Linked DNA regions of Homo sapiens. The protein of the gene in region 4 purifies or fractionates together with the protein of the main gene of each other region. This does not show direct contact. Each region holds a gene or a part of one and is shown on either strand. Other genes may lie near its edges. The genes, in order: SART3, POP1, SRP9 and TRIM2.

Region 1 (7,679 bases), on a different chromosome or scaffold from region 4:
GCTGAGGCAGGTATATCACGAGTTCAGGAGATTGAGACCATCCTGGCTATCACGGTGAAACCCCATCTCTACTAAAAATACAAAAAACTAGCTAGGCGTGGTGGCATGCTCCTGTTGTCCCAGCTACTTGGGAGGCTGAGGCAGGAGAATTGCTTGAACCCAGGAGGTAGAGGGTGCAGTGAGCCGTGATCATGCCTCTGCACGCTAGCCTGGGCGACAGAACGAGACTGTGTCTCAACAAACAAACAATTTCCCCTTTCAGATTTCGTACCCTCTTCCTTGTTGATTTCCCAATGGGAGCAGTCCCCCTGTGAGAAGCATTGCTACTAACCAGATAGACTGTTCTGAGATGATAGAGAATTTTTTGTGTATCTTTACAAGCCAAGAAGAATTCACAGTTTTTTGGTTTATAATCTGAATAATGAAAATAAGCGGTGTTTTATGAATATAAAACTATATTATATGTGTGTTTTTTTTTTTTTTTTTGAGAGAGAGTCTTACTCTTTCGCTTAGGCTGGAGTGCAGTGGTGTGATCTCGGCTCACTGCAACCTCCCCCCTACCCAGGTTCAAGCGATTCTCCTGCCTCAGCCTCCTGAGTAGCTGGGACTACAGGTGCCTGCCACAACGCCTGGCTAATTTTTCTATTTTTAGTAGAGACGGGGTTTCACCATATTGGCCAGGCTGGTTTCGATCTCCTGACCTTGTGGTCCTCCCACGTCAGTCTCCCAAAGTGCTGGGATTACAGGCGTGAGCCACCGCACCTGGCCAAATGTGTTTTTAAAAACTATACCTGTATCTCTGCTCTGTGGCCCATGAGTCTTCTTTTAGAGCCACTGATAATTTTAGCAGTGCATGGTGTTCCCATGATTTCTGATGATCCTGTTACCCCCTTCTTACTCTCTCACAGGCATTGTTAATAGCACCATTTATCTTTTTCTGAGGATCTATGGTCTTCCCCAGACTGTAATGTTTTTTAGTCCTTTATGGTCATCTCTGCTGTTAGGCCTTCACTGTCATTTAGTGCTGCTGTCTGAGTACTTTTTTGGTAGGCACATTTCGTTTGTTATGCATCAGTTTTGATATTTGGGTATTTTATATCCCAAACTAATTGAACACTTCTTATTTTTAGGTCCTAACATTTGGCTAGAGTATGGCCAGTACTCAGTTGGTGGGATTGGTCAGAAAGGTGGCCTTGAGAAAGTTCGCTCCGTGTTTGAAAGGGCTCTCTCGTCTGTTGGTTTACATATGACCAAAGGACTCGCCCTCTGGGAGGCTTACCGAGAGTTTGAAAGTGCGATTGTGGAAGCTGCTCGGGTGAGTACCTGTGGTTGTCTCTGAACGGGTTGGGGCTGTCTTTGTAAGTCTCCTTGGAAGGATTATTTTGAAACACATGTCCATGATGAATCTTGCAGTTCATATAGTTAACAAAATGGTCTTTGCCAATCCCTTAGTGGTGGGGTGATAGATAACCTTTTTTTATACCCCTTCTAGCATTTGGTACAATATGTATGGAAGAGGTCGTATAAATTTTTTTAGCTTGAACTGAAAATTTGTTGAGATATTTTTTGAAGTAGAAAGAACCAGAGTTGGCCAAGTGCGGTGGCTCATGCTTGTAATTCCAGCAGTTTGGGAGGCTGAGGCCAGAGGATCACTTGAGTTCAGGAGTACAAGACCAGCCTGGGCAATGTAGTGAGTCCCCATCTCTACAAGAACTAAAACATTAGCTGGGCATGATGGCGTATGCCTGTGGTCCTAGCTACTCAGGACTCTGAGGTGGGAGGATTGCATGAGCCTGGAGTGTGAGGCTGTAGTGAGTTGTGATCACACCACCACACTCCAGCCAGGGTGACAGCAAGAACCCTTCTCAAAAGAAAAAGAAAGAACCACAGTTTGTCATTTACTACTAATTTGCTTCTTTAGCCCGTAGCTGGCTTCCTTTCCCCTTTTGACCGGGAACAAACCTTTGATTCACAGCTTGAGAAAGTCCACAGTCTTTTCCGGCGACAGTTGGCGATCCCACTCTATGGTAAGAGAAACTGACATGTCAACAGCCAGCCCTCTATGGTTTTTAAAATGCTTTGGGGAACAACATGTAGTTAGACCTTTCCCACCATCCTGTGAGGCAGGTAAAGCTGGTGTTCTTACTCTCCTTGGATATTGTCTCTTTGGATGAGGTCCTTGGTAAAAACATCTTGAATGTTAGTGCTTAAGAGGGTTGTGAGGGTCAGAGGCAGGACTGGAAGCCAGACTCCCTGACTCCCAGGTGAGAGCTCTTTTCTCCTTTGAGACCTAGTTGGAAGGGCAGAGATAGGGTCTCTGAAAGGAATAGTGAATGACACCTGTATTTTTTGGGGAAACTTCATTGAACAAGAGTTCCATTATAATCATTTTCTCTTCACAAGTAACCTCTTCCATAACAGCAGGAATTTTACATGAGTTTAGATCATTCCTCTATGGGAGGGATTTGGTTCAGAAGTGCAGTTGATTGGAAGTACTCATAAGTGAGTTTCTTGGGGTTTGGTAAAGAGTTTCCTTATTTGGTAAATACATTTTGGCAATCTAAGCCTTTGAGTCTTTGGAGCTATGAGTGTGTGCGTGCTGGGAGGATTTTTCTGAGTATGGGAAGAGTTTGTCATGGCTGTTGTGTTTGTTCCCTAGACACGGGCATGTGTTGTACATACTCAGAACCTCTGGGCAACTTTACTGGAGCCCACATGTTATTTCTCTTCATGGTTTATTGGATTTAACAAGTTATAAAGTAGTCGTCTAATCAAATGGTTGGGTATCATGCAGAAAACACTAGAGCTGAGCCGGCTTGCAGATTTCACCTACCAGCGTGAAACAACCTAGCATAATGATTAGAGTGCGAACTTGAGCCAGACTGCTTGGGTTCACAGCCTTGCTCTACCATTAACTGTAGACGAGCAACTGAACCCTCTGCTTCAGTTTCCTCAACTGCAAAATGAGGATCACAATAGACTACCTTGTAGAGTGGGATGACTGAATGAGTTAGTGGATGTGAAGTGGTAGAACATAGGTAACACTGGGTAAGTGTTGTTAAATCGTTGCCACTAGTGTCATTGACTGATTAATTAGCTGGGAGGGTTGCCTGGGACATTGTTTTAAGACAGATTCTACAGACAGGTTTGGGCTCAGCAGAAATCAGAATTTGATCAGTAAGAGCTGCCATGCCACAGATGTGGGAGGGGCTAGTGGCACCTGAGTCTCATGGCTTAATCTGTGTTTGGGTTGATAAAGCCCAATGGCAAGACCCACGGGGCTGAATCCATCTTTCAATAGATATGGAGGCCACATTTGCAGAGTATGAAGAATGGTCAGAAGACCCAATACCAGAGTCAGTAATTCAGAACTATAACAAAGCACTACAGCAGCTGGAGAAATATAAACCCTATGAAGAAGCACTGGTAAGTGTTGGCTTCTTTTATAGTAAACGTCTCTCTACAAACCTTTCCCTGATGGATAGTTGCGAGTTAAACAGTATCTTTAAAATGTTTTATTCTGAAATATATAGAGTGTATAAATGTATACGTACAGTTTACATACTAATAATAAAGTGAACATCCATGTACCTACCACCCAGGTTAAGAAATAGAACATTGCCAGTACCTTAGAAGTCTCCTATGTGCCCCTCTCCGATTGCCTCCTCCTCCCTCTCCCGAGAGGTAATCACTTTCCTGACTTTTGTGATGATAATTCCCTTGCTTTTCTTTATAGTTTTACAAGCTATGAAAGTATCCTTAATTAATATATTGTTTAATTTTGCTTGCTTTTGAACTTTTATATATTGGAATCATGCTGTATATTTTATTTTCATTGAACATGCTTTTGGGTTTTACTCATGTTGCTAAGTATAACTCCGGTGCATTTGTTTTCACTGCTGTAAAGTTGTCTGTGTACTGCGATGTATTTATCCATGTTGCTGGATAGTTGGGTCATTTCCAGGTTTTTGCTAGGAGAAGGAGCAGCGCCACTCTGAACATTCTTGTGTGTATCTCCTTGTACACATGAAAAAGAGTTTCTCTAGAATACGTACTTAGGAATGACTTTGCTGGATCATAGGGTGATGTTAAAGTGTTTTCCAGGTTATCAGTTTGCACTGCTGTGAGCAGTATCTGAGAGTTCTCGTTGCTTGTGCCAATCTTGGATATTGGTCATACTTAAATTTTACTTAATTTGATGAATTTGAAATTGTAGTTTTAATTTGTATTTTCTTGGTTACTAATGAAGTTGAGCATCTTTTCACGTGGATTGGCCATTCAAATTTTTGTGCGTGTTAAAGTGTTCAGGCTGGGCACAGTGGCTTATGCCTATAATCCCAGCACTTTGGGAGGCCAAGGCGGGAGGATTGCTGGAGCCCAGGAGTTTGAGATCAGCCTGGCAGCGTAGCACAACCCTGTCTCTACCAAAAAAAAAAAAAAAAAAAAAAAAAAAAAGCCGGGCTTGGTGGCATGTGTCTGTAGTCCCAGCTTCTCCAGAGGCGAAGGTAGGAGGATTGTTTGAGCCCAGGAGGTCAAGGCTGCAGTGAGCTGTAATCATGCCACTGCATTGTCACCTAAGTGACAAAGCAAAACCCTATTTCTTAAAAAAAAGTCTGGGCCGGGCGGGGTGGCTCATGCCTGTAATCCCAGCACTTTCGGAGCCCAAGGCAGGTGAATCATGAGGTCAGGAGTTTGAGACCAGCCTGGCCAACATAGTGAAACCCCGTCTCTACTAAAAATACAAAAAATTAGCTGGGCATGGTGGCGGGCGCCTGTAATCCCAGCTGTTTGGGAGGCTGAGGCAGGGGAATCGCTTGAAGCCGGGAGGTGGAGGTTGCTGTGAGCCGAGATCGCACCACTGCACTCCATCCAGCCTGGGCAACAGTGTGAGACTCCGTCTCAAAAAAAAAAGTCTTTGACCCATTTCCCTTTTGATGTATCTTTTTTCTAATTGATTTGTGGGAGTGCTTTGTCTTAAGTCTTATTTTAGGCTGTATGTGTTGCAGATTTTCTCCCCAGTTGTTTGTCTTTTCACTTCTTTTTTTTTGAGACTGGAGTTTCGCTTTCACCCAGGCTGGAGTGAAGTGGCGTGATCTCGGCTCACTGCAACTTCCGCCCCGCCAGGTTCAAGCGATTCTCCTGCCTCAGCCTCCCAATTAGCTGGGATTATAGGCCCTTGTCACCAAGCCCCGCTAATTTTTGTATTTTTAGTAGAGACGGGGTTTCGCCATGTTGGCCAGGCTGGTCTCATACTCCTGACCTCAGGTGATTCACCTGCCTCAGCCTCCCAAAGGGCTGGGATTACAGGCGTGAGTCACTGCAACTGCCTTTTCACTTTTTTATTTTTTAACAGTGTCTTTTGATGAACAGTTCTTAGTGATCAATTAGATTAAAATTCTTTCCCTTTTGGTTGTGCTTTTGTTGTGCTTATTTAAAAAATATTCCCTACTTAGCTCTAATTTCTTCTAAAAGTTTTATAGTTTTCTGTTTCATATTTAGGCCCTCATCCACCTGGGATTGATTTTTGAGTGGTATGAGACTGCGTCTGGTTTCATTTTTCCATATGGAGAACCAGTTGTTCTAGTACTGAGTTTGATCATTCCTTCTTCCCCTCACTGATGTGCAGTGCCACATCTGTCATAGATTAGCTGTCCATTTATGTGTGGGTCTTTCTTCTGGATTTTCTGTTCTGTCCCACTGGTTTATGTTACACTGTTGTAATGATGAGAGTTATAATGTTTTGCTCTTGGATAGGGTGAGTCCCATCCACCTTTTTCCTCTTCAAGAGGATCTTGGCTTTTTTTTTTTTTTTGCCTTCAATGCTTCCATCGGATTTAGAATCAGCTTTTCTAGTTATATTTTTAAAATCTTTTTTTTTTTAATTGGAATTGCATTGAACCTGGAGATCAATTTGGGGAATAATTTACATCTTCCAATCTATGAACATATATAGGTTTCTGCTACTTATATCTTGTCTTTCTGTAAAGCTTTATAATAATATTATAAATTTGTCCAGTGTCTTCAACACTTGACCTTTAGAGTCCCCTGCAAGGGAGATTTGCTGGTAACAGATTTTCTGTGTTCAAAAAGGTCTTTGCTTCCCTTCTTGAAAATTATTTTCTTAGGCTATAGAATTCTAGACCGACAACAGCAAAAGAATTCTAGACGGACAATGTGTCCTCTCAGCAATTGATTGTATCTTTCTGTCTTCTGATGTCTGTTGTTGCTGTTGAGAAGTCAGCGGTTTGTATAAATCTTGCTTCTTCAGAGGTAGTCACTTTTTTGTCTGACTGCTTTTAAGATCTCATTGATTTGGTTTGCTGTCCTCTAATTTCACTGCAGTAGGTCCATGTGTGGACTGGCTTGAAGTTTTTTGGGCTTCTTGACTCTTTTTTTCTATCTTTCTTTGCCAACAATAGGATTGTGAAGGTCAGATTCTTAATATACGTCAAGCCAGCAAAAGGTTAATGTTTACTTAGCTTGCCACCCTCATTTAGATTTTGTCCTTAGTCCTTAGTATTTCTTGTTTCTTTGCCAGTTTGTTGATGACTTTTAAGAAGATATTATATTTAATTTAGCAGTTTTAGTTGTTTTGAATGGTACAGTGTGTCTGGGTAACTAATTCTTCCTCGTTACTGGAAATGGAGGCCCTGAAACATCCCCTTTCTACATATGGAGTCTGTGTGTTCTCTTACTCTCCTGCACTGCTTCATCCTTTCTTTTTCATGTGTAAATGATTTGCATGTACCTGTGCTTCCCAAAACTTCGATCATTCAATTATGTCATGGCCATCAGCAAAATGTGCCTGAAGAGAAAACATGTCGAATAAGATTTTTTTCTAAAAAGAATTTGATTGTATGTCTTTGGATCATTAAACATTCAGCACAGCTGCCTTCATCTTCTGCATTTATCTACATTCTTCCAGGAACTGATATTTGGAATAAGAAACCTGAAATAGCATCAGGCACCAAAATTTTCCAGTTTGGTTGTATTAACTCTACTCAGTAGCCCAAGAACATGACTTCTGGTTTGGAAGGGTGGTTGACAGTGGTCACTGGCAAAGGTGTTGCTCTTTCACTCAGTTCCTGATTGATGGGCTACTTAATTCCCTGTGGTCTAGGAATGGATTTAGAAAAGAGTTTATGGAGCCTTTGTAGCGACTGCCATGAACTGGCACTTTGGACCAGATGAGAAGACTCTTGTTTTGCTCAAGAAGTTGTAGAGGCCATAGTGGAGTGGTTCTGAGAGTGAGGATTTGGCGATTCATAGTTACTGTAGCCAGTTTTGCCAAAATTTATTTTATTTGCAGATGTGTTGTGCTTCCTGCCAGTAACTAAATTCAATACAATTTTCCTGTACTCCAGTTGCAGGCAGAGGCACCAAGGCTGGCAGAATATCAAGCATATATCGATTTTGAGATGAAAATTGGCGATCCTGCTCGCATTCAGTTGATCTTTGAGCGCGCCCTGGTCGAGAACTGCCTTGTCCCAGACTTATGGATCCGTTACAGTCAGTACCTAGTAAGATCACTGTTCTAATTTCATTTTATTTTTGCCAATTTAGAATCTACTTAAAATCAGTAAGAGTGCCAGGAGTTTGTTGCATACGGCCCTACTCTTGCTTTTCCTCCATCTGCTTTTTCTCCTCTTTGCCAACTCGTTTAGAAAGTTTTAGTGTTT
Region 2 (7,679 bases), on a different chromosome or scaffold from region 4:
TCCCGAGTAACTGGGGCTACAAGCATGTGCCATTATGCCCAGCAAATTTTTTTTTTTTTTTTTGGTAGAGACAGGGTTTTGCCACGTTGACCAGTTAGTCTCAAACTCCTGGACTCAAGTGATCTGCCCACCTTGGCCTCTCAAAGTTCTGGGATTAGAGGTGTGAGCCACCACATCCATCCTGGAACTTTGCTTTTAGTTATTTATTTAGTATAGTGGCTCTCAATTTGAGTGTGGCAGAGAGTTAGGATAAAAGACTGTACACAATCATGTGGATTATAGTATTAAGGGAGTGTCGTTTGGGCTGCTGTAACAAAATACAGGTTGAGCATTCCTAATCCAAAAATCTGAAGTCTAAAATGCTCCAAAATCCAAAACTTTTTGAGCGCCGACATGACATGACAGGTGGAAAATTGCACATCCGACCTCATGTGATGGGTCACAGTCAGAATGAAGGCATATAACACACAGTTTATTCAGCATTCCCATGGGAAAAAAGATGTTCCCAGCCCCCTTCAGCTGTGATATAAATATTTCCAAGCACTCCCAGATTTCACCACGTAAGCACACCCACAAAGACAAATAAAATACATGTAATTTTTACTGTTAAATACTTACATGTGAGTAAGTGTAAGAAAGTGATTGCTTATCAGTAGCATATAGATTCAGAGTCAGGAAGGATGCTGATGCCAGCCAACCACAGATTGTCCACAGGGTGGCTGAGATAGTGGCACCTTTGCTTTCTGATGGTTCAAGTATACAATGTGCAAAAAGTTTCATGCACAAATTATTAAAAATATTGTATAAAATTACCTTCAGGCTGTGTATGATAAGGCGAAAGAAGTGTAATTGAATTTTGTCTTTAGACTTGTGTTCTATCCTCAAGATATCTCATTTTATATATATACGAATATTCCAAAATCCAAAAAAATTGGAATTTGATACACTTCTGGTCCCAGTTATTTCAGATGAGGGATACACAACCTGTATCTTACTGGGTAGCTTATAAATAACAAATGTATTTCTCACAGTTCTGAGGGCTGAAAAGTCCAAGATGAAGGAGCGGGCAGGTTTGGTGACTGGTGTGGGCCTGCCTTCTGGTTCATATACAGCACCTTTTCACTGGTTCTCACATGGTGGAAGGAGCGAGGGTCTCTGTGAGCACTCCTTTATAAGGATACTAATCTCATTCATGAAGGCTCTACCCTCATGACCTAATCGCCTCCTAAAGGCCCCACCTCCTAATACCATCACCTCGGGGGTTAGGATTTCAACACTGGAATTTTGGGGGACATAAGCATTCAGACCATAGCAGGGAGCTTAGATTTGAAATTCATGTTGCACCGTTTATAGGAGAAAATTTCACCTGTATCTGTTATATCCAAGGTCCTTTATATGTCATCCTGACATGATTACCTTGTGTGCTACCTACTAGCTTTGTGACCTCGAGCAAGTTAATTCACCTTCCTACGTAAGATTCCTCTTTAAAAATAAGTAGTAATAGCCACCTTACAGGGTGACTATAGGATTAAAAACATGGTCAATGTTGCCACCCAACAAATATTAGTTCTCCACTATAATGTTTATCTCTGATAAAGGTGACATGTTTCTTTTTGAAAATATACTAGAGCCTCATCCTGGAACTTCACGACAGCGGCAAACCAGAGTCAACCCCCATTCTCTGCCTGACCCTGAAGTGAATGAGCAGTCTTCCTCCAAAGGGATGTTTAGAAAAAAGGGAGGATGGAAAGCAGGTCCCGAGGGCACGTCTCAGGAGATCCCCAAGTATATAACTGGTGGGTACTCATAAAGAGGTGCAGTTTGCTTGTATTTTGAACTCTCGTGTCTAGTGCAGCAACAAACTGCCCTCCTTGTGGTCCTGGCTCTGCCTCCCCTACCTCTCCTCTCCTCCTCCTACTTTAGACCCTTCTCGCCTCTAGCCTGGACTTTGGCCAGAGCTTCCTTGGGCTTGATGGCTCTCCCTTCTTCAGTTTCTCTCCCTGTCTCTTACTCTTCTTCTTACAAGTCTTTGTGAACTGTTCCTCTTTGTCTTAGCCCCCGTGCCCCTCTTGTTTTAAATATGCCATCCACACTCAGCACAGCATTCTCCAAGGATGGAAAATTGAGTACACACAAATGGCAACCAAACCTTTATTTAAAGGGCCTGTCTCCAGGCCCTTTCCATCCTCTTCTGTTCTTCACCCTATGATCCCCATCCACACTACCACAATTAAACCCTATATTCCTTGTACCTTGTACCTATACCTTAGATATGCTTTCTGGTCTCTCTTTACGCCTTCTTGGTGGAGGAATTCAGTTAAGTTTCCCCAGCAGCCTGTTTATTCTCCAATGTTAATTCAAGATTGGTGTTTAATGACTTTGTCATCTCCTTCAACAGCTTCTACTTTTGCTCAAGCACGAGCTGCTGAAATCAGTGCTATGTTAAAAGCTGTGACCCAGAAGTCTTCGAATTCACTGGTTTTTCAGACTCTGCCACGGCACATGCGACGAAGAGCCATGAGCCACAACGTCAAACGCCTTCCCAGACGGTTACAGGAGATTGCCCAGAAAGAGGTAGGAGTTCCACTTAGTGTAAATGTTTAGATTAGTAGCTCCTAGAAGAAATTGAGAAGTATTGACCTAATAGAATTTATTAAAAATGAAAACCAAGGCTGGGCATGGTGGCTCACGCCTGTAATCTCAGCACTTTGAGAGGCTGAGGTGGTCAGATTGCTTGAGCCCAGGAGTTCAAGACCAGCCTGGGCAATATGGCCTAACCTTGTCTCTACAAAAAAATCCGCAAATTAGCTGGGCGTGATGGTACATGTGTGCCTGTAGTCCCAGCTACTTGGAAACTGAGATGGGAGGGTACCCTGAGCCAGGGGAGGTTGAGGCTGCAATGAGCTGTGATCATGCTACTGTACTCCAGCCTGGGTGACAGTGAGACCTTGTCTAAAAAGAAAAAAAAAACTCAGAAAACATCACCCTTATGGTTTTTGTTTTTGTTTTGCATATATTTGATTTAATCATTATCCAAACTTCTTCCCTTCAAACGAAATTCACAGGCAATTGGCTATTATGGGTGCTTTGAAATATAGGATTTGATACTCCTCTCTTGTAAGGGTGTTGAATAGTTGATGTTCCCTTCCCAGATGTTAAAAAAAAACTCTGACCCTCTTACCGAGTGGTTTTGGATCTGTGTTTCTAGGGTGTGCCCAGCTTGGGGTAGGAAGGTTAAAAAAAAGCAATGTCAATGCTTAGCATTTGCTTTCTGACTTTTTCGAAGTTGAAAACTTGAACTGGGTTTTAATTTTTGTACAAGTCTAATTGTGTTTTGGCTTCACCAGAATTCTAGACTTGAACATTCTAAGATTAAGCCCATGTCTTTACTAATTGGTTTAAAACCTATTTATTGAGCAGCCTTCTATGTACCATTGCTATGCTGGTGGTGGGGTTTGAGTTCAAGAGGGAAAACTAACAAGGAATTTTATACTTTCTAGATTTAATATAAAATCTGTTTCCCAGTGATAGCATTCAGCATGTGTATGTCTGTAGCTTAACTGAGATGAAATGTATGGGTTTTCCTCACTTGTATTATTTTTGGTCTTAAGTTTTTGGTTTTAGTTACAATTCTACAGGTTAAAATGACAACAAGAAGCTAGCATTTGATTTCTTCTTTCTTGCCCTCTAATACTAATAGCCATATTAAGCTTGTGTTACTGTGTTGAACATTTTATAAGTATTCTGATCTTCATATTCCATGAAACTTGCCTAGTTAGTGAGTGATGGAACTGTGCCTCCTTCCTAGGTCTCCTAGCTCTAAAACATTCACTCTTTCCATTGTCTTCCTTCTCTACTTACATTGAAGAAACTAAGTTAACAATTTAAGCAAACTAATGGGATCTATAAAATATTCCACTTAATCTAAAGTTATTTGTTTGCATTCCTGACCGTTAACTCTGTTTTGAGATTCTTACAAACTGGGATATGTCCCTCTACTTGAAACTATAGGCGGAGAAAGCCGTACATCAGAAAAAAGAACATTCAAAAAATAAATGCCATAAAGCTCGAAGATGTCACATGAACCGGACGCTAGAATTTAACCGTAGACAAAAGAAGAACATTTGGTTAGAAACTCACATCTGGCACGCCAAGCGGTTTCATATGGTCAAGAAGTGGGGCTACTGCCTTGGGGAGAGGCCAACAGTCAAGAGCCACAGAGCCTGCTATCGAGCCATGACGAACCGGTGCCTCCTGCAGGTGAGCTTTTCCAGTGGGCTTTTTTTGTTATTTTTGTTTGATCCTTTTCCATAGAGGCCTTTAGAATAGTTTATGATGTGCCAAGCCCCGTTTATGTGATTATTCATTTTAAAAATAATTCCTGAGCATGAAGCCCGGGTCCTTTGCCAGATGCTGGAGATCAGGCAGCCTAAAGTTAGGGGGGTGACTGACATTAATCAAACGATTTACCAGATATGTGGTTGTAAGGGAAAAGCATACAGTATGATGAGCATTTCTAACCTAACTGGAAGGCGTCCCCCAGAAGTGCTGTTTGAGCTGAGCTCTAAGGGATAAGATGGGAGGAGAGGGGGAAGGCAGAAGGAAGCCAGGTGAGAGTGAAGAACTGGAATCAATTCTGTGTGACAGAGAAGAAGAGAAGGAGAACAAGGCAACATCAGGGCAAGGTTAGCCTAGAGAAAAGAGTAGGAACCAGGTCGTGCAGGTCTTGTTGATCATGTCAAGTTTTATTCACTATAGATTAATCTAACAGTCGTTCATCAATAACAGATATTTGAGAATCAACTGTGTACCCTGAACAGGGTTCAGAATGCTGGTCTAGGTGTTTATGGGTCAGTGGGATGCTGGGAAGGATGTTTTAAATTTTAAACGCTTTGAGAGGACAGATTATGTTAGAGCCTCTTAATAGTATTTATCTGATTGCTCCCTCCTCTCAGAAGCTAATTCAGTTGCTTTCTATTTCTTCCAATACATACTTAGACATTTGTTCTTTGCAGAAGGGCCTATCTTTCAGTGGCAGAATGGCCTTGGCCAAATTTTGAAAGCCATTACTATTGGTGTCCTTTGATACCCCTTGAGAGTAATGTGGTAGAATAAGCAATACAAGAATCTTTTTAAAAAATTGTGGTCAAATATACATAACAAAACCATTTGACCATTTTAAGTGTATAGTTCTGTGGCATTAAGTACGTTTACGTTGTGTAATCAGTACCACCATCCATCTCCAGAACTTTTTTATCCTTCCAAACTGAAACTCTCGACTCATTAAACACTAACTCCCATTCCTTCAGCCCCTGGCAGCCACCATTCTATTGTCTATCCAATAATTTGATCCTATAGGTGCTTCATAGGGGTGAAATCATACAATATTTGTCTTTTTGTGACTGGCTTATTTCATTTAGCATAATGTCTTAAAATTCATCCGTGTTGTAGCATGTGTCAGAATTCCCTTCCCTTTTAAGGCTGAAGATGTATTCCATTGTAGGTATATACCGTATCTTGATTATTCATTTATCTGTCAGTGGACATTTGGCTTACTTCCACCTTTTGGCTATTGTAAATAATGCTGCTGTGAACATGGATATGCAAATATCGTTACAGTCCCTGCTTTCAGTCCTCTTGAATATATCCCCAGAAGTGTAATTGCTGGATCATATGATAATTCTATGTTAATTTTATGTTTAATTTTTTGAGGTACTGCCTTACCATTTTCCATAGCAACTGTATCATTTTACATTCCCACCAGCAATACACAAGGGTTCCAATTTCTCCTCATCCTTTTCAGTACTTGTTACTTTATTTATTTATTTGATCACAGTCATTCTAATGAGTGTGAAGTGAATAAGAGGACCTTTTAGGAGTCTTTGATTTGAGAACTCAGCAGCAGAAATCATAGATAATAGTCAAGTTCCTCATTCACATTGAGGAAGCTGGGTTCTGGAGAGATGAAGTGACTTGCCTGGGCTCACACAGCTTGTTGGTGGCCTACATAGCACTTGGGTGGCTGATTCCCCTGGCTTGTGCTTTTTCCACTGTCCTCTGCCAATGAGTTACTTTTCATTTTGGGCATAATTTTTGCTGAAGTTATCAGATATTTTCTCTAAAATTTGATCAGCCCTAAGTAATAAAACTAATAGCTAATAATAACAAATATTAGTGAGTGCTTAATATATGCCCTACCCTGTTTTAAATGGTTTGCATGTGTTTACTCATTTAATCCTCAGAATAGTACGAAGTAAGGAGTTACCATTATTTCCATTTTACAGATGGGGAAACTGAGGTACAGAGAGGTTAGGTAGTTTACCCATGATTGTATGGCCAATGAGTGTTGAGGTTCAGATTTGAGCCCAGTTGCCTGACTCCAGGGTTCCACACTCTGAACCATTATTCTCTGCTGTCACTTGTTTGGGTGAGGTTCCTCTGGCCACTGACAGCTGAGAGCTGGTCACTGGATGGGAAGATTTCTTTGTGTGAGTGATCATATTGATTGACATGCGTTGTCAGAATCATAGCTATAATTTCCCTTTTAGTTCTAGTTACTGAGTGCACTGAAATTGCTTAAAGATGCTATAGCAGAAGGGTTGGTTTGGCAGATCACTGAGCCTGATTAGAATGCTGGCTTCTCCACTTAATGACTGTGTCTTTGTTCAAGTAACAATCTCTGTGTCACAGTGTCCTTGTCTGTCAGATAAGATAACCATACTAGGTACATCTGGTTGTCAGGAAGACTAAATGACTGTTCATGTAAGGAGTTAACTCATTGCTGGCACTCAGTAACCCTTCAATGACTATTAACTATTATAGGCCAGGCATGGCAGCTCATGCTTAGAATCACAGCATTTTGGGAGGCTGAGGCAGGAGGATTGCTTGAGCCCTGGGGTTCAAGACCAGTCTGGGCAACATAGTGAGACTCTGTCTCTGCAAAAAAAAAAAAAAAAAAAAAAAAATCTGGGTGTGGTGGCTCGTGCCTGTAGTCCCAGCTACCTGGGAGGCTGAGGCAGGAGGATTGCTTGAGCTCTGGGGTTCAAGACCAGTCTGGGCAACATAGTGAGACTCTGTCTCTGCAAAAAAAAAAAAAAAAAAAAAGCTGGGTGTGGTGGCTCGTGCCTGTAGTCCCAGCTACCTGGGAGGCTGAGGCAGGAGGATTGCTTGAGCCCAGGAAGTTGAGACTTCTGTGAGCTGTGATTGCGCCTCTGTACTCTAGCACTGGCAACAGAGTGAGACCCTGTCTCAAAAACAAAACAAACTGTTAGAATTATTATTATAATTATTATTATGGATACTATAACTATTGAAACTTTTAACATTGATTTCATTAGCTTAGTCTGATCTCTCTTCATCTTACTTGAAATTGTATGTTATTACTTTTACTTTCTTTGTACTGTGCTTAAAGTTGCATATCATGGTCAAGACTGAGTATGGGAGAAATATGGGATGGATTAATTGCAATATTGTATCTCTAGGCTTAGTGTTAAGTAATCTTGAGGTCCTGAATTAGCTAACCAAATTGAGCAACCTGAGCATAATTTTGCAGAATTCATTACTGTTTTGCTTATTTTACTCTGGTTTCTTACCTTAGGTAGACTTTGGGGGTGAATGGTTCTCTACTTAGAGGCAACAGTTATGTACCCTCCGTAGAACCTGTCTATGAATATGGGATA
Region 3 (7,679 bases), on a different chromosome or scaffold from region 4:
TCATTATTAAAAAGCAAAGGAGTCCAAGTGATGGGAGTTTAGCATTCGGGTCTTACTTTTCGTCTCTTGAGGTTTTGGTTATTTTATTGTCATGTCTAAGAATTATTTGAAGCATCTTCGTGTTAATTAAAAGTTCTGCTTCTTTTTAGAACTCAGCATATTGAAGGGATTTTATACTGAAAACCTCAGACCTGGTTATGTATGATGCTTCTTTTGTTTTGTGTTTGTTGTAACTCAGTTATCTCTTTTATGCTGCATTCATTTCCCACTCTCGTGTTACTGACCCCAAGTTAAATTAGGTTCTGTGGGAGACACAAAGGTGAATGAGATTCCGTTCAACCCTTAAGGAGCTGGTATTATTGGAGGGTATTATAGATCCAGTGTATTGTGACTGTATCCCTCGGAGAAGAAAGAAAATTAAAAGCAGATAAAATCTCGGAAAACCGGGGCTCAGGATCTTTTTTTTTTTTTTTCAATAGTTTTATTTTTTTTGAGACGAAATCTCGCACTGTCGCCCGGACTGGAGTGCAATGGCTCAATCTCAGCTCGCTGCAACCTCCACTTCCTGGGTTCAAACGGTTCTCCTGCCTCAGCTTCCCGAGTAGCTAGGTTTACAGGCGCCTGCCACCACACCTGGCTAATTTTTTGTATTTTTAATAGAGGCGGGGTTTCACCATCTTGGCCAGGCTGGTCTGGAACTCCTGACCTCGTGATCCACCCGCGTTGGCCTCCCAAAGTGTTGGGATTACAGGTGTGAGCCACTGCGCCCAGCCCAGGGCTCAGGATTTACTGTGTGAAACTATTGATGATCATTAAGTAATATGAATTATGTTTTAAGTGTATGCAGTGAGCTGGTAACCTGTAACTCCAATGCCACATACAGTTTATAGTGCATATAAGTTTAAAGTGTGCAGCAAGAAATGTTGATAATTATGATTAAAAATAGTATTAGACCCACAGAAAGACCTAGCTAAGTAACAAGCTGTAAAACATACTTCTATTTTTTACAATAAAATGATACAATAATAAATGATGGAAATTGTATTTTTTAAATTGAGTAATTTGTTTATAACACTGGTGACTTCTGGTTGCTTCATTTGGTTAGCTTCCCTTGTTGGCAGGGTCATTTGTTTCTTCATTCAGACAATGCTACTCTGAGACCACACAGGACTTTTATCCAGAAGTACCCACAGTATAAACTAAAAATACTTGAGACAACAGTAAAGAATATATAAATTCACATCAAGAGTAACTGTACTGTAAGAATGTGATGGCAGTGGTAGGGAAAATGAAAATAATTAGAGCATCACTGTGAGCAAAGCATGTCTAGAATAGACAAGAAAGAGAATATTTCACCTCTTACCCAGTCAGAAAATTGCAGTTGGCACAGGCTGGAGTGCAGTGGCACAAATCACAGTTCGCTGCACCATTGAACTGGGCTCGAGTGATCCTCCCACCTCAGCCTCCTGAGTAGCTGAGACTACAGACATGCCACCATGCCTGCCTAATTTTTTTTTTTTTTTTTTTTTTTTTTAAAGACGGGGCTCTTGCTTTGTTGCCCAGGTTGGTCTTAAATCCTTGCCTCAGGTGATTCTCCTGCCTCAGCTTCCCAAGTAGCTGGGATTACAGACACAAGCCATGGCGCCTGGCTTGACTGATATGTTGAGAGGGGAGAGGATGAGTGTAGAGGAAGAGCTTAACAGTTTTTTTTGTTTGTTTGTTTTCCAAGATGGAGTTTTGTTCTTGTTGCCCAGGCTGGAGGGCAGTGGCGCCATCTTGGCTCACTGCAACCTCCGCCTCTACGTGACAGGCATTTTACATATGTTTATATGTTACAGGCATTTAATATATATTTATGTGTGTTTACATAGATTTATACATAATATATGAACAATTACAGCAACCCATCAAAGTATATAAATGAATGATTTTATATCTGTTAAGTGATATACCTAGTTTCTTGAGAGATTAAGATGAAATTTGGACCCAGATCTTTGAACCCCAAGTCCATTCTCTTTCTGCTAGGGCTAAAGAACAAATTTTGTCAGGTCTCTGGAATCTGTTTTCCAAAATTCTCTGTCTTCTCTCCGCAACACATTTAACCTGTTGATTATACCCAGTATCTTTTTACCACTCTGTCTTGTATTGCTGTAATTGAAGATGGCATTACCACTGGATTATGTAATAACCTCTTTGTTGGTCTGTCAGCCTTTTTAGTTCCTTAACACTCTTGCCACAACTGTCTAAAAAACAAAAGTTGAATTCTTCATCTCCTGCTTAAAAACTGGCTCTTTGATAACTGGATATAGTCCCAACTCCCAGTCACAGTCTGACCCATCTCCAGTCTTTCTGGCTTTGTCTCACCATTTTCATGATCTTCAGCTCTAGTCTCATGAAGCTACCGGATTGTATCCTTGTTCAGAATGATTTTTAGCCTTTCTTCTGCCTTCTTCTATAAGGTTAAAACAAAAAAAGCATTTCAAAGCCACCTCCTTTTTTAGACTTTCCTTTTTCCCAGTCTAAGTTACTTGTTTTCTCTCTTTAGCATTTTATCTGTATATCCCTTTATAGGACTTAATTCATTCTGTCCTTGTGTTTTGGTTATTTTTGGTAAAGAACCTTGATTTTTCTTTCTTTATGGCATCTGACATGGTGACTTGGCACCCTCTAAATTACCAAATGGACCCTTTTATAAACACGATTGGCCTTTTTTCTTTTCTTTTTCTTTTTTTTTTTTTTTTTTTTTGAGACAGAGTTTTGCTTTTGTTGTCCAGGCTGGAGTGCAGTGGTGCAATCTCAGCTCACTGCAACCTCCGCCTCCCGAGTTCAAGCGATTCTCCTGCCTCAGCCTCCCGAGTAGCTGGGATTACAGACACCCACCACCATGCCCAGCTAATTTTTGTATTTTTAGTAGAGACGGGGTTTCACCATGTTGGCCAGACTGGTCTCGAACTCCTGACCTCGTGAGTGAACTCCTGCCCTCCCAAAGTGCTGGGATTATAGGCATGAGCCACTGCACCCAGCCATGATTGGCCTTTTAACTCTCATTTCTCCTAAATGAAACCAGTGAGTGTTCCTTTAACTGAGAGTTAAAACTTCACATAGTTGTCATGCTTAGTATATTTTTAAGTGTTTCGTTTCTAGAGAACTGAATTTTTAAAATGTGTAAAACTGAATTTACTAGATAAATAAATAGAATCAGGTATTCTAAAGATAATTAACCTAGTTACTACTATTTATACCTGCTTAAATGCTTGATGAGTTCCCTTTCCTCCTTCACTCAGACAAATCGCATATAGTGATGTAACTTTTTTTTTTCAGTCTCAGGAATGCAAAGACCGTAATGGGGAAAGCTGTAGGTTGCAGTTCCATTAGCCCTTTTTATTTAGTTTCCAGAATTGTCTTGAGGCCTCTGGTGCTAGATTGTAACCATTTTAAAATTATGTTTCTGTTCTGGCTTGTAGATAAGTAGCAGTTTTTATTTTATTTTATTTTATTTATTTATTTTTTTTGAAATGGAGTCTCGCTCTGTCCCCAGGCTGGAGTGCAATGGTGCGATCTCGGCTCACTGCAAGCTCCACCTCCCTGGTTCACACCATTCTCTTGCCTCAGCCTCCCGATTAGCTGGGACTGCAGGCACTCATCACCACGCCCGGCTAATTTTTTGTATTTTTTAGTAGAGACGGGGTTTCACCGTGTTAGCCAGGATGGTCTCAATCTCCTGACTTTATGATCCACCCGCCTTGGCCTCCCAAAGTGCTGAGATTACAGGCGTGAGCCACCGCGCCTGGCCGATACTTAGCAGTTTTTAAAACAGCTAGCTAAACAAGAGTTACTGATACTGGTTAGGGAAAAACTGCGATACACTGTGCTTGAATCCATCACTGAAAAAAAATAATGTTCGTGGAAGTGTTCTTGGGAGATGTCTTATAGGAATATGCTAATATCTAAATGCCTTGGCAATCTGTAGAATATTGAACATAAAGTATTGTGTAACATGGAACTTCAGTATAGGAGTTATTCTGGTTTTTGGAAAAGTTGTTGGTGGAGACTTCAAGGCAGAATTCTGCTTTTATGTAATAATGCGTTATGTTCTACCTTCGTGATAAAGACCTGATTTTGCTGAATATTTTAGTCTGAATCTGCTTGCTAAGATTTGTGGAAAAATGGAAAGTGTGAGTTGCACTGACCTGCAGCACTGTTTGCTAATGAATGGATTTGGACTTTTTAACTAGCCATTTCTGCTAAATGTTTTCCTCCCTTTCCTGTCATTCCTCTGTGGCTAGGTGTGTTGGTGTATATTCTTATTGGCAAGAAATGCCACCTTATAAGTCTCACAGACATTCCCTGAATGTGGATGTGTTTTGAGAATGTTCAGTACATCTCTTCAAACTGGCTGCAAATAAAATATCCAACTTTTTAAGTCTTAAATAAATGGTAGCAAAGGAATGAACTAAAATAGCTGATTTTTTTTTTAACTTCATTTCGGTTTAGTTTATAGTAAAAATGCCTTTAGATGTTTGGGGGTATTTATTCTAAAAGGATCCTTTTCAGCCTACCTGAAGACTAAATTATTTATAAGAAATGTCATTTGTCTTCACTGTTTCTAAATATGTATTTTTGTTTCAGGCACGTGTGGTTCTCAAATATAGGCATTCTGATGGGAACTTGTGTGTTAAAGTAACAGATGATTTAGTTGTAAGTATACATTTTTATTTGTTACATACTTTCAGATTTGTTTGAGTTAATTATTTGTTTGAAATTATTTACTTAGAGTTTATGGAGATTACCCATTAGGATGCTTATTTTGCATTTCATTTAAAGATGAAGAACCTCATTCTAGCAGCTACTTTTATAGACCCTCAGGAAATTATTTAACCTGCTTTCTTAATGCATTATGTCAAGTGTCTTTAATAAGTGCTGTCTTCAGACCTTAAGCAACAGAAATGTAGAGACCAAATTGGATGTAAGGGAGTAAAAGTTTCCTTTAAATGACAGTGTTTGAACACAACTTACAGGCTTTATTGTATTTCCTGTCTTTGATATGCTCATTCTTGTTACTTCCTCATATCCCATTCATTCCTTAACCCTCTGCCATTTGTTTTCTGCATATGGTACTCCAGCGAAACTGCTCTTTGTGAGAGCACATCAGCAGCTCCTTTCTTTTCAAACCCAGTGGTCTTATTATTCATATGTTATTTGACCTCCTTGCTGCTTTTGATACAGAAGCCCACTCTTTCATAGAAATAATTATTTTGGCACTTGTGGTTCTGTTTTATCTTGGCCTTACTATTCTGTGTTTCTGTTGTTTCATTCTTCTTTGCTGATTGTTTTTTTTTTGATGTGCCCCATATATATGTGCTTCTCTAGGATTCTGTCCTTGATTGTCTTTTCATAACAGCTTCTGGAGCAGTTCATTTAACTGAGTCTAATACTGCATCTGTCTATGTCTACTTGCAAATGTGTGTTTAGTTCATATTCTTCTGACTTTCTGACTAGCATCTGTATCTCACATACCCTCAAAATTCACTTATCTACAGTGGAGTTTATCACCTGTTCTTTTTTTTTTTTTTTTTTTTTTTTTTTTTTTTTTTGAGACGGAGTCTTGCTCTGTCGCCCAGGCTGGAGTGCAGTGGTGTGATCTCGGCTCACTGCAAGCTCTGCCTCCCGGGTTCATGCCATTCTTCTGCCTCAGCCTCCCGAGTAGCTGGGACTACAGGCACCCACCACCACGCCCAGCTAATTTTTTTTTGTATTTTTAGTAGAGACAGGGTTTCACCATGTTGGCCAGGATGATCTGGATCTCCTGACCTCGTGATCCACCCGTCTCGGCCTCCGAAAATGGTGGGATTACAGGCATGAACCACCCCACCCGGCCTATCATCTGTTCTTAAACTAGCTCTTTCTCATGCCTGTAATCCCAGCATTTTGGAAGGTCAAGTGGGCAGATCACAAGGTCAGGAGATCGAGACCATCCTGGCTAACACGGTGAAACCCCATCTCTACTAAAAATACAAAAAAATTAGCCAGGCATGGTGGCGGGCACCTGTAGTCCCAGCTACTCAGGAGGCTGAGGCAGGAGAATGGCATAAACCTGGGAGGTGGAGCTTGCAGTGAGCAGAGATCGTGCCACTGCACTCCAGCCTGGGTGACACAGCAAGACTCCATCTCAAAAAAACAAACAAAAAAACTAGCTGCTTCTTCTGTTCCTACCTTCCTACCTTTAGTTGCATTATTTTCCACGTGGTCAGAAATCTGGGGATTTTTTTTAATTAAAAAAATTTTTTTAGAGACAGGATATCGCTATGTTGCCCAGGCTGGTCTTGAACTCCTGGCTTCAAGCAGTCCTCCCACTCAGCCTCCCAAGTTGCTGGGATTACACACATGGGCCACAGTGCACAGCCCAGAGTGATTTCTATTTAGACGGAGTCTCGCTCTGTTGCAAGGCTGGAGTGCAGTGGGCGATCTCTGCTCACTGCAGCCTCCACCTCCTGGGTTCAAGTGATTCTCCTGCCTCAGCCTCCTGAGTAGCTGGGACTACAGCCGTGCACCACCACGCCCAACTAATTTTTTTTTTTTTTTTTTTTAGTAGAGACGGGGTTTTCACCATGTTGACCAGGATGGTCTCCATCTCTTTACCTCATGATCCACCCACCTTGGCCTCTGAAAGTGCTGAGATTACAGGGGTGAGCCACTGCGCCTGGCCTTTTCTTTTTATTTGTTTGTTTGTTTGATGGAGTCTCGCTCTGTCGCCCAGGCTGGAGTGCAGTGGCGCAATCTCGGCTCACTGCAAACTGCCTCCTGGGTTCACGCCATTCTCCTGCCTCAGCCTCCTGAGTAGCTGGGACTACAGGCGCCCGCCACCACGCCTGGCTAATTTTGTGTATTTTTAGTAGAGACGGGGTTTCACCCTGTTAGCCAGGATGGTCTCGAACTCCTGACCTCGTGATCTGCCCGCCTTGGCCTCCCAAAGTGTTGGGATTATAGGCGTGAGCCACTGTGCCTGGACTTTTTTTTTTTTTTTTTTTTAAAGAAGGAGTCTGGCTCTATTACCCAGACTGGAGTGCAATGGTTCATTCTTGGCTCACTGCAACCTCTGCCTTCCGGGTTCAAGCAATTCTCCTGCCTCGGCCTCCCAAGTAGGTGGGATTACAGGTGGGCACCACCACACCCAGCTAATTTTTGTATTTTTAGTAGAGATGAGATTTCACCATGTCGCCCAGGCGGCTGGAGTTGAACTCCTGACCTCAAGCGATCCACCCACCTCGGCCTCCCAAAGTGCTGGGATTACAGGTGTGATCCACCACGCCCAGCCCCAGAGTGATTTCTGAAAGGCTAATTTGATTGTTACTCCCTTGCTTAGAAACCTTTAAACTCCACCCTTGCATCCTCTCTAATCTCTGTCATTTCTGTATTATGTAAGAGCTCCTTTAATGTGCTGTGATGTGTTAGGCCTCAGTGCTTTCAAACATTCTGTTTCCTCCTTTGCAATATTGAATCCCACCTCCACCCCTAATGTGGCCAGACTGCTGCTTATCTTTCAAAACCCAACTTGAGGATTACTTCATTTCTTGCTTTTCATTTTGGCTTTTTGTGCTGTATCACAATTCTTTTATCACATTTGTCTTTTTAATAGACTGCCCTTCAAGACAATAGAGATAGATCAGTAATATTCTTAC
Region 4 (7,679 bases):
ATAGGTCTTTAACTACCAGGTGTATTTGCCCACTGTCCACCTGTGCCTTCAAGTACCGTACTTAACAAGTTGGAACCGAGGGAATGGTACACTTCACATTTTGCAACTGTTATGCAAATAGAACTTCAATGAAATTCCTCAAACTGTTGACTCTAGAAACCGTGGGAGACAAAGGGTCAGTGTCTGACTTCACGAACGTTACCAACTTGAAAAATGAGATCTATTCCTTAGTGTGTGGGAGGAAGACATTTAAATCTGTAGTACCCTCAAAGCCTCACTCTAAACCTGGTCTGGCACTTTTCAATGTGTGTTCTTTGATATGGTAAGTAGTTAAGTATATCCCACCAGAGACCTTCCAAGGATGGGTTTTTTCCTCCATATGACTTCTCTCACTCTTTGCAGGAGAATAAAATAGAGTTTCAACTGAACTTTAAAGCTGTAACCTGATCTCAGAATCATGCACCATAAACAGCATTTGTGCTTTTCAAGATACTTTCAAATCCATATAGTTTTCCAAGATATTCCTAGTTGCCACATTGGGTGATTTAATTTTTTTTTTTTTTTTTTTTTTTTGAGATGGAGTCTCACTCTGTTGCCCAGGCTGGAGAGCAGTGGCGAGATCTCGGCTCACTGCAACTTTCACCTCCCAGGTTCAAGCGATTCTTCTGCCTCAGCCTCCCAAGTAGCTGGGATTACAGACACCTGCTACCACGCATGGCTAATTTTTGTATTTTTAGGAGAGACAGGGTTTTGCCACATTGGCCAGGCCGGTCTCAAACTCCTGACCTCAGGTGATCTGCCTGCCTTGACCTCCCAAAGTAATGGGATTTCGGGTGTGATCCACCGTGCCTGGGCTGGGTGACTTAATTTTAAATGTAGGGACATCAAGCAAAATGTTGCTGAGGAGTCTCTTTCGCAGCAAAAGTCCTGTGAAATCTGCAAGGCCATCTTTTTCATGGGTCCCCAAATGTTTCACAGGCAACTGGGCAATAATTGCATTTCCAGGAATGCCAAATGGAGCCAAATCCTTTTAATAGCTCACTGACATGCAGGTTATTCCACTGGGGACCAAAAGGAAGGAACTAGAGCTCTCAAAATATTTGATTCTTGATTTGTGCTCTTCACTGGATGATTCTATTTTCTTGAGAGCATTTTTAACGAAACAGCAGCAATCAGTGATTTCTTAGAAATGTGGCCCCTTTAAATACACTTCAGTGAGGCTAGCTCTTGTGTTTCCTGGACACTCTGTGTGTTCTGGACATACTGGAGGCACAGCATAAATATTAATGCTGGCCATTACAAAAAGAAAATGAAAAGACCCCATAAGGCAGCAGTGACCCTAGAAGCCCCAGAAGCCGTGTTGGAACTGTGACAAGGAAGGATAGTGACAAGATCTGAAAAAAGCAGCCCTCTTCCCACACTCAACACATGCAGTAAACCCAGACATGCAGGGCACCATTGTCTGAGCTGTCACTGGAGGGCTGGGAGGAGACAGGGGATGGGGCAATGGCAGCCTACCCACCCCTCCTCATCACTGTCCAGGGGCATTCAGGAAACACAGGCTTCCAATATGAGGCTGCCTTTTTTTCTCACAAGCCATGCTCACTAGGAATCCATAGCGGCCATCTGCACACCGACCTGGTGGTGTCTCAAGCTTCCAGGTGTGGTTTTGGGGGCAGGGTCCTTGAGGAAGGGGGTGCTGCTGACAGTGAGGTAACCTGAGGTCAGCTCTGGACAGGGCTGGGTGGAAGAAGAGTGTAGTGACTGCTGATCCCTGTCCTTTCTAGGAATTGGGGTTACTGGGTCAGAGAAACATCTCAATACCTTCCAGGCTTCCAAGGCTGGTTGTAAACCTGCTCCTTGATAAAAGAAACTACATCCAACCTTTAGGAGCAAGGTGGGGTAACATGGGAGCAGATCTTAGTTCATTTGTTTGTTTGTTTTTGCTTGCCTGCTTGCTTTTTTGTTTTTTCTTTTTCTTTTTTTTTTTTTTTTTGAGACAGGGTTGCACACTGTTGCCCAGGTTGGAGTGCAGTGGTGCAATCATGGCTCACTGCAGCCTTCACCTCCCAGACAGGTGATTCTCCCACCTTAGCCTCCCAAGTACCTGGGACTACAGGCATGCACCACCATGCCTGGCTAATTATTTTTTATTTTTTTGTAGATATGGGATTTTACCATGTTGCCTGGGCTAGTCTCTGAACTCCTGGGCCCAAATACTCTGCCCACCTGGGCCTCCCAAAGTGCGGGATTACAGGCATGAACCACCTCACCCAGCCTACAAATTCTTATATGACAATTTGAATCTCTGCTTGGATTTGTTTTATCCTCTCTTGTGCTTGTAACTCAAACTTTAATACTTGAAAAGTTTCATCAAAATTTAAATATACTTTTCTAAATCTGTGAGAAGGCTGTCTCCCAAGATGGTTTGTTACTGCACATCTTTTCCCCGGTAGATGGAAATATCCCTTCTCTATTCTCTTTCCCTTAGTCTTTCAAAAACTCAGTGAGGAGGAAGTGCTTGCTTCTAGCTTCTGGCGGTAGGCTACATTTCCCAGCCTGTCAGAATGGCCTCTCTGCAGGCTTCAACCCTTATGAGAAATAAAGCTGTCCTTTAGCAAAGTCATCAAGCTAAGTGTCTGTCAACAGATGATGATTAAAGTGTGGTACATATACACCATGGAATACTACTCAGCCATAAAAAGAATGAAATCATGCCTTTGGCAGCAGCATGGATGAACCTGGAGGCCATTATCCTAAGTGAAATGAGTCAGAAACAGAAAGCCAAAAACTGCATGTTCTCAGTTATAAGTGGGAGGTACACAGTGGGTATATGTGGACATAGAGAGTGGAATAATAGGCATTGGAGGCTCCAAAAGGTGGGAAGATGGAAGGGGATAAAGGATGAAATATTGCCTATTGGATATAATGTACATTACTCAGATGATGAGTACACTAAAAGCCCAGACTTCACCATTACGCAATATTTCCATGTAAGAAAGCTGCACTCGTGGTGGTGTATGCCTGTGGTCCCAGCTATTCAGGAGGCTGAGGAGAGAGAATTGCTTGAGCCTGAGAGTTCGAGGCAGTGAGCTGTGATTGCACCACTGCAGTCCAGCCTGGGCAACGAAGTGAGACTCTGTCTCTAGGAAAAAAAGAAAAAGAAAGAAAAAGAAAAGAGGTGGATGCAGACTGGAGATTTAGGAAAGCCTTTTCAGCTCCTTTCTCTTGCCAAGTCTTGTTTGTGGCTTTGGTGGGTGGTTTTGTTTGGGGGCCTGTCTTCTTTATTCCCTTTTCTTTTTTCTCTTAATCAAAGCAGTCTGTTCTGGTACTGCAGTGAAACAACTCTTTCCAGTTCCTTTGCATGGTGGTTGTGCACGTAGCCTCCAGGCCTGGGCTTGCATCAGTCATTTTGTCTATTCATACAAAGGGAAATTTAGGCTTTGTTCAGTTCATCTCCTACCAGGGCATGTACTTTCACAGCTACTGCCTGGGAAGCTTTGTGTGCATGAGATATCACCAGTCTGCCAGGCTACCAACTTGACTGTAAGTGGAGAGACTAACTGATGAAGCAATGACTGTGTGCCAGGAACTGTTCTAAGTGCTTTATGTGTATGAGCCAGTCAGCCCACTATTACTGTTCTTCTCCATTTTCAGGTGAGGAAACTGAGGCTCAGATTGTTGAGAAAATTGTCCCAAGCCGCACAGCTGGTCAGGGGCAGGCCAGCATTCAGTTTCCAGAGCCTGTGTTTTTAACCATTATGTGATGCCTCCAGGGTACATTATATTCTTTTGCATGAATGTGCAAAAATATGTCTTCATGCTTCTATTTCTGTTCATTTAACTTGTTTCAATTTTTTTCTATCACAAATAATACAGCAATGAATGTTTTTGCAATAATAGCTTATAATGATAGTTAACATTTGTCGAATCGCTAACAAAGTGATGGGCTCTGTTTCAAGTTCTTTATGCATCTTAATTAATTTAATCTTTGTAGCAATCCCACTATTATTTTTTACTTATTTATTTATTTTTTGAGACAGAGTCTCGCTCTGTCGCCCAGGCTGGAGTGCAGTGGCACGATTTTGGCTCACTGCAACCTCTGCCTCCCGAGTTCAAGCAATTCTCCTGCCTCAGCCTTCCAAGTAGCTGGGATTACAGGTGCATGCCACCATGGCTGGCTGACTTTTGTATTTTTAGTAGAGACGGGTTTCACCATGTTAGCCAGCTGGTCTTGAACTCCTGACCTCAGGTGATCCACCCGCCTCGGCCTCCCAAAGTGCTGGGATTACAGGTGTGAACCACTGTGCCTGGCAAATCCTACTATTATTACTATTTAACGAATTTAATCTTTGTAACAAACCTACTATTATTACCATTTAACAGAAGAGGGAAACGAGGCACAGGACAGTTGGCTACATATTTTGTTCCAGATTGCACAATTAGAAAGTGGCAGCTTAGCACCATAAGACATAGTGAGGAAAAAAGAAAAAAAAAAAGTGGATGGGCTGGCATTGAAACCCAGAGCTGGTACTCTTATGATAGTGTCTAGACAATATCTGTGACCACACCTCTGATTGTACCTCAAGAAGAAAGATTTTTAAAGTGAAATTACTAGAGCATAAGATATAAACATTTAAAAGGTTTTTGATACATCTTACAAAAGTGCTTTTCAATAACACTGATTGATCATGCTCATTTGCATTTCCATGAGCACTGTGTAATTGATCAAGGACTCTAAAAGTTAGATAAGCCACTGATAAATGGAGATGCCCCTCTAAGTCCCTGGGCAGTAAAACCTGACCAGCATAGCCTCCAATAACCTGCATAGTGTTGAGGAGAGCTTGGATTTAAGAGATTAAGAGGGTCAAACTCTTTTCTGTCCATTTTAAAATGCAAGTTTTATTTAAGAGGAACTATCTAATATGCTGAAGACAGTATCAGGTATCTGTAAAATTGCTTTTTGTAACTCAGAATCTTGGAACAAAAGAAACAATAAAGAAAATTTGGAACCAGAACTGTTTACCCTACGGAAAATTTTTGTCCAAAGCAGCCTCTCAGCGTTCCACATCATTTTCATCATTATGAATAACGACAACAGCAACTAAGGTTTATGTTGCACTTTTGACTGAACACATGCCTCTTTCGTATTTCTTAGACCAAGCCAGTGTTTCTTGTACTTTCCTGATGATAAGAAGTACCAAGAGGTGTTGTTAGCTAGATCGTCATAAATAATCAGGCCTCCCCTAGGTAAGTTCTGATTTAGGAGGTCTGGGTTGGAGCCTTAAATCTGTGTTTTGACAAGCATACTAGGTGTTTTTTATTTTCTGAGGATTTTGGAAACTACTAGAAAACACAATAAAATTGCTGTAGTAGGTTCTTTTTTCAATGTTAAGCTATTAACATTAGAATGCTTGCTTTTAATTGGAATCAGGTGTTAAAGAGAAAATCTACAACGATCAGTCATTGCAACAGAAGTAACAATTATATACTAGCCTCACTTAGCATTCTTCACCCACACTGGTTCCCTAAATGTACATTTCTTAATTCTCTTGAATGTCTATTATACAGGCAGATGCAACTTGCAAATCACACTAACTCGAACATACACTTCAGTGCCTCACTAGAACCCCTAACTGACATCTTTTTCCTAAGTCAGTATACCTGGCATATGCCTGGCTAAAGTGCCACTTTCTCTTGTTTAGACCCTGAAGCTGATGTAGACTGGGAACTGATTACTGAGATCTAGACATACCTCCTCCTCTCCTCCACATAGGCCCACCCACCAAGAATCCCTACATTGGAAACCCTTGGGGTTCAAGGATCATGAGTCTGGGGCATGCACCCTGGGATCACTGTTCAGAGCTGAAAATGCATTTCCCCATGGAAACATTGATGTTGATGTGGTGCCGTTTTGCTAGAGTCCAAGTACATTTTCTGGTTTTTGTGGGCTGATCTGGGCTCTTGCTGCCATTTATCATATTTCTATAAAAAAAAAAGCTCAAAACTACATTAGGGAGGGGTGCATCTGGAGTGTTTGAAATATCCCAATTCTTGTTCTGGATGGTGTTTTTACCCTGTTACTATCCCTTTGTGATATTCCGTTGAGCTGTTGCCTTAGGATTTGTGCACTTCTCTGTTTTTGAATTATATTTATTAAAAATTTCAACATATGGGGGTTTGCAAGAAAAAAGGTTTCTTAAATAAAACCCCTCCATATGGAATATAGCCTTTTGGAAATTAAAAACAGGCATTGAAATCTATGATTAATATAAAGAATAAGAAAATAAATCAATTATCATTTTTTTTCACACTGTGGATAGAAGATTTCAAAAGAAACCCTTTCATGGTTCCTTTTATTTGTTTTTTCATCTGTAATTTGAGAATTAAACATTCAGTCACACTAGTCCCAAGCAATACAGTTCAAAAAACTTTTTTGCCTGTTTTTATTTTTTTGTTGTTGGTTTATGCAAATGAGGTTTTTAGCTGGAAACTTCAAAAGCCTGACACATATTAAAAATAAGCAGATTTATGATGAGTGGGATTTTTGGCAAGCAATTGAGAAAAATCACCAAGACTCCAAAGAGAGTTGTTCTCTTTCTGTCTTGGCTTTGTCATGTGCTCTTTCTTAATATTTGGTTTGAAGCAGTGTATGGTTCTGTAATGTGACCTGGAGCCTCTATTGAGTAAGCATCCCTGGAGACTAAGAAACATCTTTCTATGCTAATGGATTAGTCAAAGAAGATCAATGTATCATCATTTCAAGAAAATATTACAAGAAAGTATGCTCTTACTCTAATGGAAGCCAGTAGCAATTTTCTTGTCAATTTCCCAGCTATTTTTTAATATTATTTTAGTACTTACTTTCCTGTGCTGACTCTATGTTCAATCTAAAATTAATTGTTTGTCCCAGTTCACTTCCTTAGTCCCTAGACTCCAGTTGCAACTTTCATGATATTCTGTTCCTCTCCTGCAGAGGGTTTAAAGGGCTGCAGAATAAGAGGGCAGCTTGTACATTCTTTTGACAAAAGGAGGCATGTCTCTCAATGCTTCCCTTAGTTTCTATCCCCAGAAGTTCTCAAGATGAATGTCCAAGTCCATTTGTGCTACTATAACAAAATGCCTGAGGCTGGCGAATTTATAGACAATAGAAATTTATTTTTAGTTCTGGAGGCTGGAAAGTTCAAGAGCAAGGCACCAGGAGGTTTGGTGTCTGCTGAGGGCTGCTCTCTGATTCCAAGGTGGTGCCGTGAGCGTCTTTACATTGTGAAGGGGATGGAAGGACAAAAGGGCTTGCTAGTTCCCTCAAGTCCTTTTATAAAGGCATTAATCCGTTCATGAAAGGGGAGCCCTCATGATCTAAACACTTCCTAAAGGCACCAACCTCTTAATACTATCACATTGGCAGTTAAGTTTCAACATACAAAGTTGGAGGCACACATTCAGGCCACAGCAATGAGATTCTGTGAGTTCTTTGATTTAGATGAACTTTGTTTAGATGAACTTTTATTTCTCCCCAACATCTTACCATGAGCACAGTCAATACAACTGAAAATTAAGCTTTGATTTTCCTTTCAAAGTGGCTCTTTTTTTCTGCTCATGTTTCTGTTAAATGACATGATTTTATTTTTTAATTTGTAAAATGTTTTGGGGTTTCTGCTAATTGAATTATGGGACCC

What was found.
Region 1: the proteins of TRIM2 (region 4) and SART3 purify together in Homo sapiens (affinity purification with mass spectrometry, with the first as the bait; one large-scale study listed by BioGRID). This does not show direct contact.
Region 2: the proteins of TRIM2 (region 4) and POP1 purify together in Homo sapiens (affinity purification with mass spectrometry, with the first as the bait; one large-scale study listed by BioGRID). This does not show direct contact.
Region 3: the proteins of TRIM2 (region 4) and SRP9 purify together in Homo sapiens (affinity purification with mass spectrometry, with the first as the bait; one large-scale study listed by BioGRID). This does not show direct contact.

What each region holds. Positions count from the first base shown.
Region 1 is NC_000012.12:108,538,775-108,546,453, reverse strand, and holds part of SART3 (spliceosome associated factor 3, U4/U6 recycling protein), read left to right. Parts: intron 1-1,130; coding exon 1,131-1,315; intron 1,316-1,921; coding exon of another isoform or gene 1,922-1,975; coding exon 1,976-2,027; intron 2,028-3,301; coding exon 3,302-3,426; intron 3,427-3,609; exon of another isoform or gene 3,610-3,642; coding exon of another isoform or gene 3,643-3,684; intron 3,685-7,364; coding exon 7,365-7,520; intron 7,521-7,679. UniProt on the Homo sapiens protein: U6 snRNP-binding protein that functions as a recycling factor of the splicing machinery. Promotes the initial reassembly of U4 and U6 snRNPs following their ejection from the spliceosome during its maturation.
Region 2 is NC_000008.11:98,125,967-98,133,645, forward strand, and holds part of POP1 (ribonucleases P/MRP protein subunit POP1), read left to right. Parts: intron 1-1,628; coding exon 1,629-1,796; intron 1,797-2,398; coding exon 2,399-2,574; intron 2,575-4,011; coding exon 4,012-4,260; intron 4,261-7,679. UniProt on the Homo sapiens protein: Component of ribonuclease P, a ribonucleoprotein complex that generates mature tRNA molecules by cleaving their 5'-ends. Also a component of the MRP ribonuclease complex, which cleaves pre-rRNA sequences.
Region 3 is NC_000001.11:225,778,671-225,786,349, forward strand, and holds part of SRP9 (signal recognition particle 9 kDa protein), read left to right. Parts: intron 1-4,629; coding exon 4,630-4,698; intron 4,699-7,679. UniProt on the Homo sapiens protein: Component of the signal recognition particle (SRP) complex, a ribonucleoprotein complex that mediates the cotranslational targeting of secretory and membrane proteins to the endoplasmic reticulum (ER).
Region 4 is NC_000004.12:153,209,510-153,217,188, forward strand, and holds part of TRIM2 (tripartite motif-containing protein 2), read left to right. Parts: intron 1-7,679. UniProt on the Homo sapiens protein: UBE2D1-dependent E3 ubiquitin-protein ligase that mediates the ubiquitination of NEFL and of phosphorylated BCL2L11. Plays a neuroprotective function. May play a role in neuronal rapid ischemic tolerance.